2 separate regions of the Homo sapiens genome follow, and region 1 is linked to region 2. Evidence: fine-mapped expression QTL. A gene starts in region 2. The other region holds a variant in brackets. All regions are shown on one strand. Distances are from middle to middle. Region 1 overlaps CERK (ceramide kinase). Region 2 holds the start of CERK (ceramide kinase).

Evidence for each region.
Region 1: its variant is fine-mapped to the expression of CERK in whole blood (TOPMed, PIP above 0.99).

The regions. Positions count from the first base shown.
Region 1 is chr22:46,684,746-46,689,127 of GRCh38, forward strand. CERK (ceramide kinase) reads right to left here. Exons shown (of 13, transcript NM_022766.6): 13 at 1-2,461. The coding sequence ends at 2,389. Among named protein-coding and RNA genes, the nearest start is that of CERK, 51 kb to the right of the region's middle. RefSeq lists a silencer at 1,567-1,861. The variant C/T (reference allele first, on the strand shown) is at 1,703.
Region 2 is chr22:46,735,723-46,740,104 of GRCh38, forward strand. It overlaps CERK (ceramide kinase), which reads right to left and starts at 2,530. Exons shown (of 13, transcript NM_022766.6): 1 at 2,285-2,530. The coding sequence starts at 2,426. It overlaps LOC105373077 (a long non-coding RNA gene), which reads right to left and starts at 670. Exons shown (of 2, transcript XR_001755593.2): 1 at 581-670. RefSeq lists enhancers at 342-915, 1,603-1,772, 3,011-3,669, 3,043-3,372 and a silencer at 1,923-2,882.

The DNA of each region.
Region 1 (4,382 bases), 51 kb before region 2:
TGTATGTCTGCCGCATCTGAAAGGCTGCCCCGGAAATCAGAGCCTATCTAGCGGGAATGTCTGGGCAGTCACCCCCATCCTGCGCGCAGATAGCAAAGGGCTGCTGGCAGGTGTCAGACACACGGTACCGCAACAGCAGTCCCGAGGTCTGAGATTCTGAATGTCAGCAGGTGGCTGGAGAGTATCACCAGAGCCACTCAGGAACCAGCCATGCGGAATGGCTGGGTTTCTTATTGAACATGAAATGCTTCCTCTTTGGCCTGGACTGTTTTGCTAAAATTGTTAGTGGGTTTTGGGGCAGGCCAGTGTATGGGAAACTTTTTTTTTTGTTGGGGGGGGCGATGGAGTCTCCCTCTGTTTGCCCAGGCTGGAGTGCAGTGGCGCAATCTTGGCTCACCGCAACCTCCACCTCTTTCTTGGGTTCAAGCGATTCTCCTGCCTCAGCATCCCTAGTAGCTGAGATTACAGGCGTGCGCCAACAAGACTGGCTAAGTTGTGTATTTTTAGTAGAGACGAGGTTTCACCATGTTGGGCAGGCTGATCTCAAACTCCTGACCTTAGGTGATCCACCCGCCTCGGCCTCCCAAAGTGCTGGGATTACAGGCGTGAGCCACCGCGCCCAGCCGGGAAACATTTACCAGGGACAATAAAGGCTTAGAAGAACCTTTTGGGGAAACTTTGTGAGGAGCACAATTCCAGAGGGCCCACAGCAGCCACAGCCTCCTGGCGTGACACCAGGCACACTGCCGGCTGCACAGGTTGCTGGGCACAGGCAGGCACAGCCAGTCTGGAAGAGCAGCCCGTCTTAAATCTTTGGTTTCTTTCCAACCAGGAGCAAACATTGGTAGAAAGAGCCAGGGCATATTTACTCTTTACACCCAGAATTTTCATTCATTATTGAACCATTTGGCTTGCACAGTGCTCTCTGATAATGTGGTCCATAAAAACCACCATTAAAGCTGCCCTTTCACCTGATCTGGGTGGGGCTAAACGAGGAAACGAGAAGTTTCCTGTATGCTTCAAAATATAAATCAATGCCAGGAAATTCTGAAAATGGATGCTGCCTGTTAAACATGAAATCACTAAGGGAGCTTCTGCAAAACCCACCCGGCAGCATGAGGAACGGTGTCTACAGCGTGCTCCAAACGGCCACGGCCCCGCTCCTTACAGATCAAAGTTTAAGCCGCATATTCTCATATTTCAAACAAAACTACGTTACAGACATCATCTACGTGGGCACGGATACACACTAAACAAGGACGTAGTACACAATTGAGGGGTGCCCCGGGGAGCGCGGCAGGAATGCCTTCCGGGAAGAATCCTCTGGTCGCCGGAGCCCTCGCGCTGCAGAGGAAACCAGCGATCCATCGTGGCTTCGAGGCAAAAGACAGACATCCGAGACGCAGTTTACACTACTCTGGCTTAAAAGGACAAGATGTTCAATAAATATAGAGAACTCAGTGTGAAGAAAAGACAAGGACAAATCTGGACCACGTGTACAGACTTCAGGCCCTGCCTCAGAGGAGTCCTGCGGGAGTCCAGGACCGGCCCCTCCTCCACGGATGGCCAGCTTCCTCCTGACTGCCCCCAAGCCCGGCTGTGTTAAGCACTTCGCGTCGATATAAAGCATTGGTATTTGACATTTTAACAGTAACAAACTTGCCAGTGCTTTACACACTGCCAGCTTCCAGAGCTTATCATC[C/T]GTGCTCCCAGAACAGACGCCAAGGTCATGCTCCCAGCCGGATTGTCGTAGCCTCGCCGCCGTGATGAGGCAGGTGTGGAGGCCCCAGCAGCCTTCCCGGCGCTGGCGTGGAGGCCCCTCCCGCGGATCACCTGAAGCAGGGCCACGTTGCATTGCAGTTGCACAGTATTGTAAGGATCAAGCAGCGATGTCCTAACCGTAAACGAAGAGGAAGGTGAAATGAAGGCAAAGAGAATCAACCACTTCCCAAAACTTGGCCACAAACCGTTACAGAATAAGTCCTGCAAAGTGGATCAAAGTGACCCACTGCTACCTCAGGCCCAGATGGTGTGACCTGCGTGGAAATCATATAATGTCCCTAACATTATTGCAATAGAGCCACTAACGGGCCATTTTCTAAACTACACTGTTGACATCGTTAAAACCTAAGAGGCCAGTGCCCCCAAGTGAGCAGCTGCATCCGCTGAGAGTAAGCGGCGTGGGCTGCAACCCGCAGATGCGTACAGAACTGAAAATGCCAAATATGTACACAAAATTGTTGACAAAAGGGTTTTCTTCTAAAATCAAGATTTAACTATCAAAAATAAATTTCTACATTTAAATGTATATATCAACATAATTGGTCTGTAATAATTATCTTAAATAGTTTTCACACTTTCCCAGTTTGTGAGCAGGACGCCGGCTTCTCAGCTGTGTGAGTCTGGCTTCGGATTCTCTTCAATTCCTCGTGCAAAGAGTCGAACCAGCTGGCAGTGGACTCTGCAGAGACAAGCGGCCACGTGTAAACCCCACGTGTCCCTCACTCAAAGCTGGCCTGAGCCCCACTCCTGGACAGGGGCTGCAGTAAACCCCACGTGTCCCTCACTCAAAGCTGGCCCTGAGCACCGCTCTTGGACAGGGGCTGAAGTGGGGGTCCATCCCCCATGGAACGGTCAGACGTCACCGTGGGCTGTAGGAGTCCAGCCCACAATGACGGGCCCTGGGCGTGGAATAATTCACTTAGACTCCCGGGATGCCGAGTTTGTAAAGGGGTTGCCAATGGCCAGGTGGGAAATCTGGGCATCGGTAGACCTGACTCGAACTCCAGCACCCCCATGGAAAGCAGAGCGTCCGCTCCAGTGTCTGCCCACTCCACCCACCCACCCACCTCCATTTTCTCAGCAGTACTGAGCGCGCAAGGCCTGCGAGGAGTCTGTGCGGGGCGACTCAATGCGTGTAAGAGATGTGTGAGGAATGCTCAGATGAGAAGGACAGGTGGCCCAACGCCAGCAAGAGCCTTCGGGCTTGAGGAACAAGTTGGGGGTCCCTGGAGGTCCCCTGCCCAGGGGCTCGGTGGCCACAGTGAGTCCGTGGGTGAGTGCCATCTTCCCACACAGGACAGCTCTATTTATCTCATTTATTAATGATATCACAGCCTCCTCAGACGTATTTCAGTAACCTAAACCCCTTCATTAAGTGACAGGCTGGGGCAGGGCACAGTGACTCACGCCTATAATCCCAGCACTTTGGGAGGTCCAGGCGGGCGGATCACCTGAGGTCAGGAGTTTGAGACCAGCCTGGCCAACATGGTGAAACCCCGTCTCTACTAAAAATATAAAAATTAGCCAGGTGTGGTGGCGGGCGCCTGCTACTTGGGAGGCTGAGGCAGGAGAATTGCTTGAACCTGGGAGGCAGAGGTTGCAGTGAGCCGAGACCTCGCCATTGCACTCCAGCCTGGGCAACAAGAGCAAAACTCTGTCTCAAAAAATAAAAAAATAGAAATAAATAAGTGACAGGCTGTTTCCATGGAGCTGAGCTCACACACACACAAATTATATTTTTAAAAGCGACGTGCTGCTCAAGGCATAGCCATATTTATCAAGATAGACAGGACGTATTTCAAGAATGCCTGTCCTGATTTTCAAATTATTCTATTTCTTTAATAAATACATACACCAATATTAAAAATAATCCCACTTCCCAAACTTGTCAAATGAGTTGACAGAGGAAAGTCCCTGTGCACGGCTGCCTGGGGTGGCCGGTGTTCCTGGGACCTTTCGACAGCCTCTTGCCATCACCACCGCCCTGACAGAAAGAAAGGGGGCGCGTGGCCCTGGGCCTGGGGAGGGGCAGAGACCTCCTCCCTTAGGCTTGTTCGGATGCGAATGGGAGAAGCTTTCTTAGAGCCGCAGCTGGCTGGCTGAGGAGTCACTGAAAGTGGGGCGCTGTCCACAGAGATGCGTGCATCCTCTTACATGCTGTGACTTAAGGCACCCAAGGGCCATCTGACACCCAGCTTTCGTTGCAGACAGGCGTGGGCCTGCTGACCAGCCTGCTATCGCTCTCACGCCAGCCACACTCTGTTAACGAGCGTCAAGCTGGGCTTCCTTGAAGTAGACCGAGCTCTTACCAACATCTGCCAAGAGTTCAGAATCCACCTGAGCTCTACCGTTCCCCAGTCTCATGTAATTTGCACGCCCACACCTAATTCAGTGGCCTTTTGAAAAAATCAACTTGCTTGTTACTGGGTCTTTCCATGGAGAAACAATTTTCTTTGCACTCAGATTCCATCTGGTTATGTGATACATCACAGACTTCCAAATACAATGGGCCCCAGTGGGTGTGGGGAGGACACCACTTCCCACCCTCCGCCCAGCCAGCCAGAGGAGGGGTGTGGCACCTGCCCCAGGGAGACCGAACA
Region 2 (4,382 bases):
GGGGAATGGGGAGGGCTGGGCAATGCCACCTTGCTGACCAAATTAAATGTCCTGTGAGCTGGTTCACATTCTTCTGCCCTACTATGGCCCTACTGACCTCAAGCATAGAAGAATCGAACCTGGGCCTGATTCCTTTTGGGGACTGTAAAGCTATGAGAAAAAAACTAGAGACAGTGTGGCTGTATTCCTGAACTCATTCACAACTTAGCGTTTCCCAACTTGTTGATGTTTTCCCATTGCATGGGAGAGCACTCCTGGGTGGAGAGGGCAGGCTGCTTCCTGGAGGAAGCCCACCAGCCAGGGCCACCAGCCAGGGCCCCACCATCCATGGCCCCACAAACCAGGGCCCTCCCTCTCCAAGAGGGACCAAGCTCCTGGCAGGCCAGTCAGGCAGCTCAGGATGAACCCGCACAAAAGCACCTTGGCTTAGCAAGAGTGAAGCAATTAGCATGCCAAGAGGCAAACCCCAGCAGGCTGGACAAAAGCAGACGCCACACCACACCAAGCCCTGACCTGGGGGACCAGAAACCATAATGGGAGCTGGCTGGGGACGCCAAGGCAGAAAGCAGTGATGACTGACCTCCCACACAGATGCCCTGTAAGGGTCTGGCGTCTCTGCGGCGGCTGGAGCCTGAGGGAAGCCTTACAGCCCAGTGGCTACAAGCACAGCAGCTAATTGGGCCAGTCACTTCCAGCCCCTGCAGATCGGCCCCTGCATCCCTAGGACGGGAGCAGCTGCCTCTCAGGAACCCATCCGGTTTGAAGCCCAGTGGCCCGCACTTAGGAAGTGCTTGGGGGAGGCAGTCATCTTCCTGAAGCCTAGGGATTTACAACAAAGTACAAACCCTTCGGGCCCAGGTCAGGCACCTGTTCTCCTTGTGTGTGGGCCCTGGTGGGTGATATTTGGGGTGTGACATTTCTACCAAAGGGGACATGAGAAATACCTTAGGAAAGTCAAGTCTCAGATGCCCAGCCACAGATAGGTGACCCCAGGGCTGGAAACCAAGTGTTGGTCATGGGTCTGAGACCACCCCTCGACCTTGGCCCCACCTAACGTTCAACTCTGTCCCCACCAGAACCCAACCCACAGATCCTCACCACTCAGCACCAGAAAGCGCCCAGAAGAACTCCTGACCTCGACTGCCCACAGGGTCTAAAGGTGTCATCCCAGGCTCCGAATATCCACCAGAGAATCTTGGCCTCCGCCACACCCACCCCATTCCAGCTCCGCACATCCAGCATGAATCCTGGCCTCTGCCACACCCACCCCAATAATTAAAAAGAAAAAAGGCTGGGTGCGGTTGCTCACACCTGTAATCCCAGCACTTTGAGAGGCTGAGGTGGGCAGATCACCTGAGGTCAGGAATTCAAGACCAGCCTGGCCAACATGGTGAAACCCTGTCTCTACTAAAATACAAAAATTAGCCGGGCGTAGTAGCGGGCTCCTGTAATCCCAGCTACTCCGAGGCTGAGGCAGGGAGAATTGCTTGAACCCAGGAGGCGGAGGTGCAGTGAGCCAAGATCGTGGCATTGAACTCCAGCCTGGGCAACAGAGCAACACTCCGACTCAAAAAAAAAAAAAAACAAAAAACAAACAAAAAACAACAAAAAACAAAAACAAACCCTCTGTCCTCCTGCAGGGCTCTCTCCAGGGTGGGCTATGCGTCCTCCATGTTTACCAAAGTCACTCTTCTCCTCATCCGGAGGGCCTCTGCGGGGCAAGTAGCCAACCCGTGGCACGGAAACCAATTCCCCCATCCCGAGCAGGGAGCACACCCCACAGAAAGTCAGGGGCCCCTTCTTTAACTTCTTAACAGGAAGTCCTCACCCTGCAAGGGCGCCTCTCAGGTTTCGGATCCCTGCTAAAGAAAAGCATCTGTTCTTGGAGTAAACTGCAATGCGCGCGGTGGGGAGCGCCTGGCACCCCCCCTCGGGATCCATCCACAGTCCGTCTTGTCCAGAGGTGCCCTGCGGACAGACCGCACCGGGGGCCACGACCCCGCGCCCCGGGTCCCACCTCCCCGCGGGGATGGGGCGCCGGCCTCCCCTCCACTGCGCGGCGCTTTGTCCTCGGGTTCCCGGAGCAGACGGCGGCGCACAGCCCGGCCCCTGGCCCCGGCCTCCCTCCCGCCTGCCCCGACCCCTCCCTGGCGCCTGCGCTCCCAGGGCCCCCGGCCTTACCACAGCCGCTCGCTCCCTGCACCCGGTCCCCCCAGCCGGGTCCCCCAAGCCGCCCCCGCTCCCTGGCCAGGTCCGGCCGAACCCGGGCGGCGGCGACACTCACCCGCGCCGGGGGCGCCGGCTCCGGGCCCCGGGCTCCGCCACCAGCGCAGCAGAGCCCGCGCGGGCTCCAGGCTCACGGCGCAGCGCTGCTGCTTCACCCACAGCACGGATTGCAGCGGCTCCGCCGCCCCCGTCGCCCCCATCTCCGCCGCCGGGCTCGTCCGCCAGGCTGGGGGCGCGCGGACGCCGAGGGGCGCCGGACCGTTAGCGGCCCCTGCAGTGGCCCGGGCGGCGGGCGGCGGGCGGCGGGAGGCGGCGCTGCGTCACCCCGTACGCGGGCGGCGGGGACCGCGGAGGGGACGGGCGGGGCGGGGGCGAGGAGGAGGCGTGGGTAGAGGAGGGGCCGGGAGCCAGGGAGAGACGGGGGGACCCGAGAAGGGGAGAAGAGGGAGGAGGAAGGGGCCGGGATGGGGCTGGCCGAGGCCAGGGCGCTGGGGCCGGGAGGCGGCTGCCTTTCTCTCCTCTCTTCTCCGGCGGGTGCCGGGTGCTGAATCTGGCGCTCCCGCGGCCGGCCGGGACTCAGTGGCGCCTTCCGCGCGGGCCTCGGTTCAGGCGGGGTCCGGGCGGCGTGGAAACGCAGTCCTGGCGATCGGGCGCGGCGGGGGGCGGGCCTGGATGGGGGCGCCACGGGCGACGTGACCTTGGGCGGCGGGTGCCCTCTACGATCCTGGCGTCCTGTCGGCCTGGGAGGGGGCCTGCAGCTGGGCCCCGACAGGCAGGTAAGGCTTTCAGGAGGCGGAGGTCTTTTTAGGGGGCGGGGGCGCTGGCCCTTTGAACTGCTCTGGGGCCTGAAGCCACAGAGCAGACAGCTGAGCAGCCGCCCCCGAGCTGGCCCTAGGAACCGGAGCCTGGGCCCCAGACTTGGAGAGACACGGCCCCTGTGGCCCCAATTCACCGCCTCCCCAGGAAGGCCTCCTTGACCCCACAGCTGAAGGAATCACCAGCCTGCAGGGACTCCAGCCCTGCCTTCAGAGCACGCCGTGCGCCTTCATGCAAGCTCCAGTCTCTGCGTCCGCAGTGCTTAACACAGCCCCATAGGAAGCAGCCACAACCTGGTTCGGAGGGCACATCCCTCCCTGATTTATCAGTGAAGACTGTGCTCACAGAGGTTAAGTCACTTGCCCAAGAGCACAGGGCTCCAGTGTGGCAGAGCCTAGGCTCACACTGACACTGCCTGGATGTGACACTGAGGTCTGAGGCCTGCCCCTCCCCTCGGCTCCCCTACCCAGCCCTGCTGCTGCAGGCAGAGGTGAGGTGGGCTAGGTCCACGTGGCCTTGCTGCTGTGCCTGGCACCAGGTGGCAGCATATACAGGTCTTACCCTGCCAGCTCCTTGTGACTGTCTTGTCTATAGGGCGGGAACCAGCCATGAATCATTCCTCCCTGGGAGCCCAGCCCCTGTTCAGGCCATGCAGTGAAGGCCCCAGGACAGTCCTGCAGCCACCGTGGGCCCAGTCAGAGTCCTAGCAGGCAGTACCTGATCGTGGCACACAGTGGGGTGTGCAGCAGCGAGGCCTGCCCAGCCTCCTCCCTCCCTCAGCTGCCGCTCTGAGGCCTGGGAAATGTGGATCTGAAACTTACTTGGAAAGAAAAGCTCATGCCAGTGGCAGGAGGGTGCCGCTGCATGCGAAGAGGGTTGGCAGGCAAGGGTGGCATGGGCAGGGGCCCGAGAGCACCAGCGTCCCTACTGGGGACCCCTTCCCTGGGCCTCCCTGTGCTTAGGCTCCCCGTGCCCCTCCCGGCGTATTCACGTTGCTGTCCCCCGGCTGCACGCCTTGGCTTAAAATCCTGCAGCCAGAGGTGGGGGCCCAGAGACGACTCAGAAGTGCTTAGGCCCCGAAGGAGCTCCGTTGGGGGAGACAGCAACATCAGTTACAAAACACACAGGAGATTCAATGAGGCTGTTAGGGTGGGCCCTCATCCAGCGCGTCCTTACAAGAAGAGGAAATGTTGACCGGGCTCTGTGGCTCACACCTGTAATCCCAGCACTTTGGGAGGCTGAAGCGGGTGGATCACCTGAAGTCAGGCATTGGAGACCATCCTGGTCAACATGGTGAAACCCTGTCTCTACTAAAAATACAAAAATTAGCTGGGTGCAGT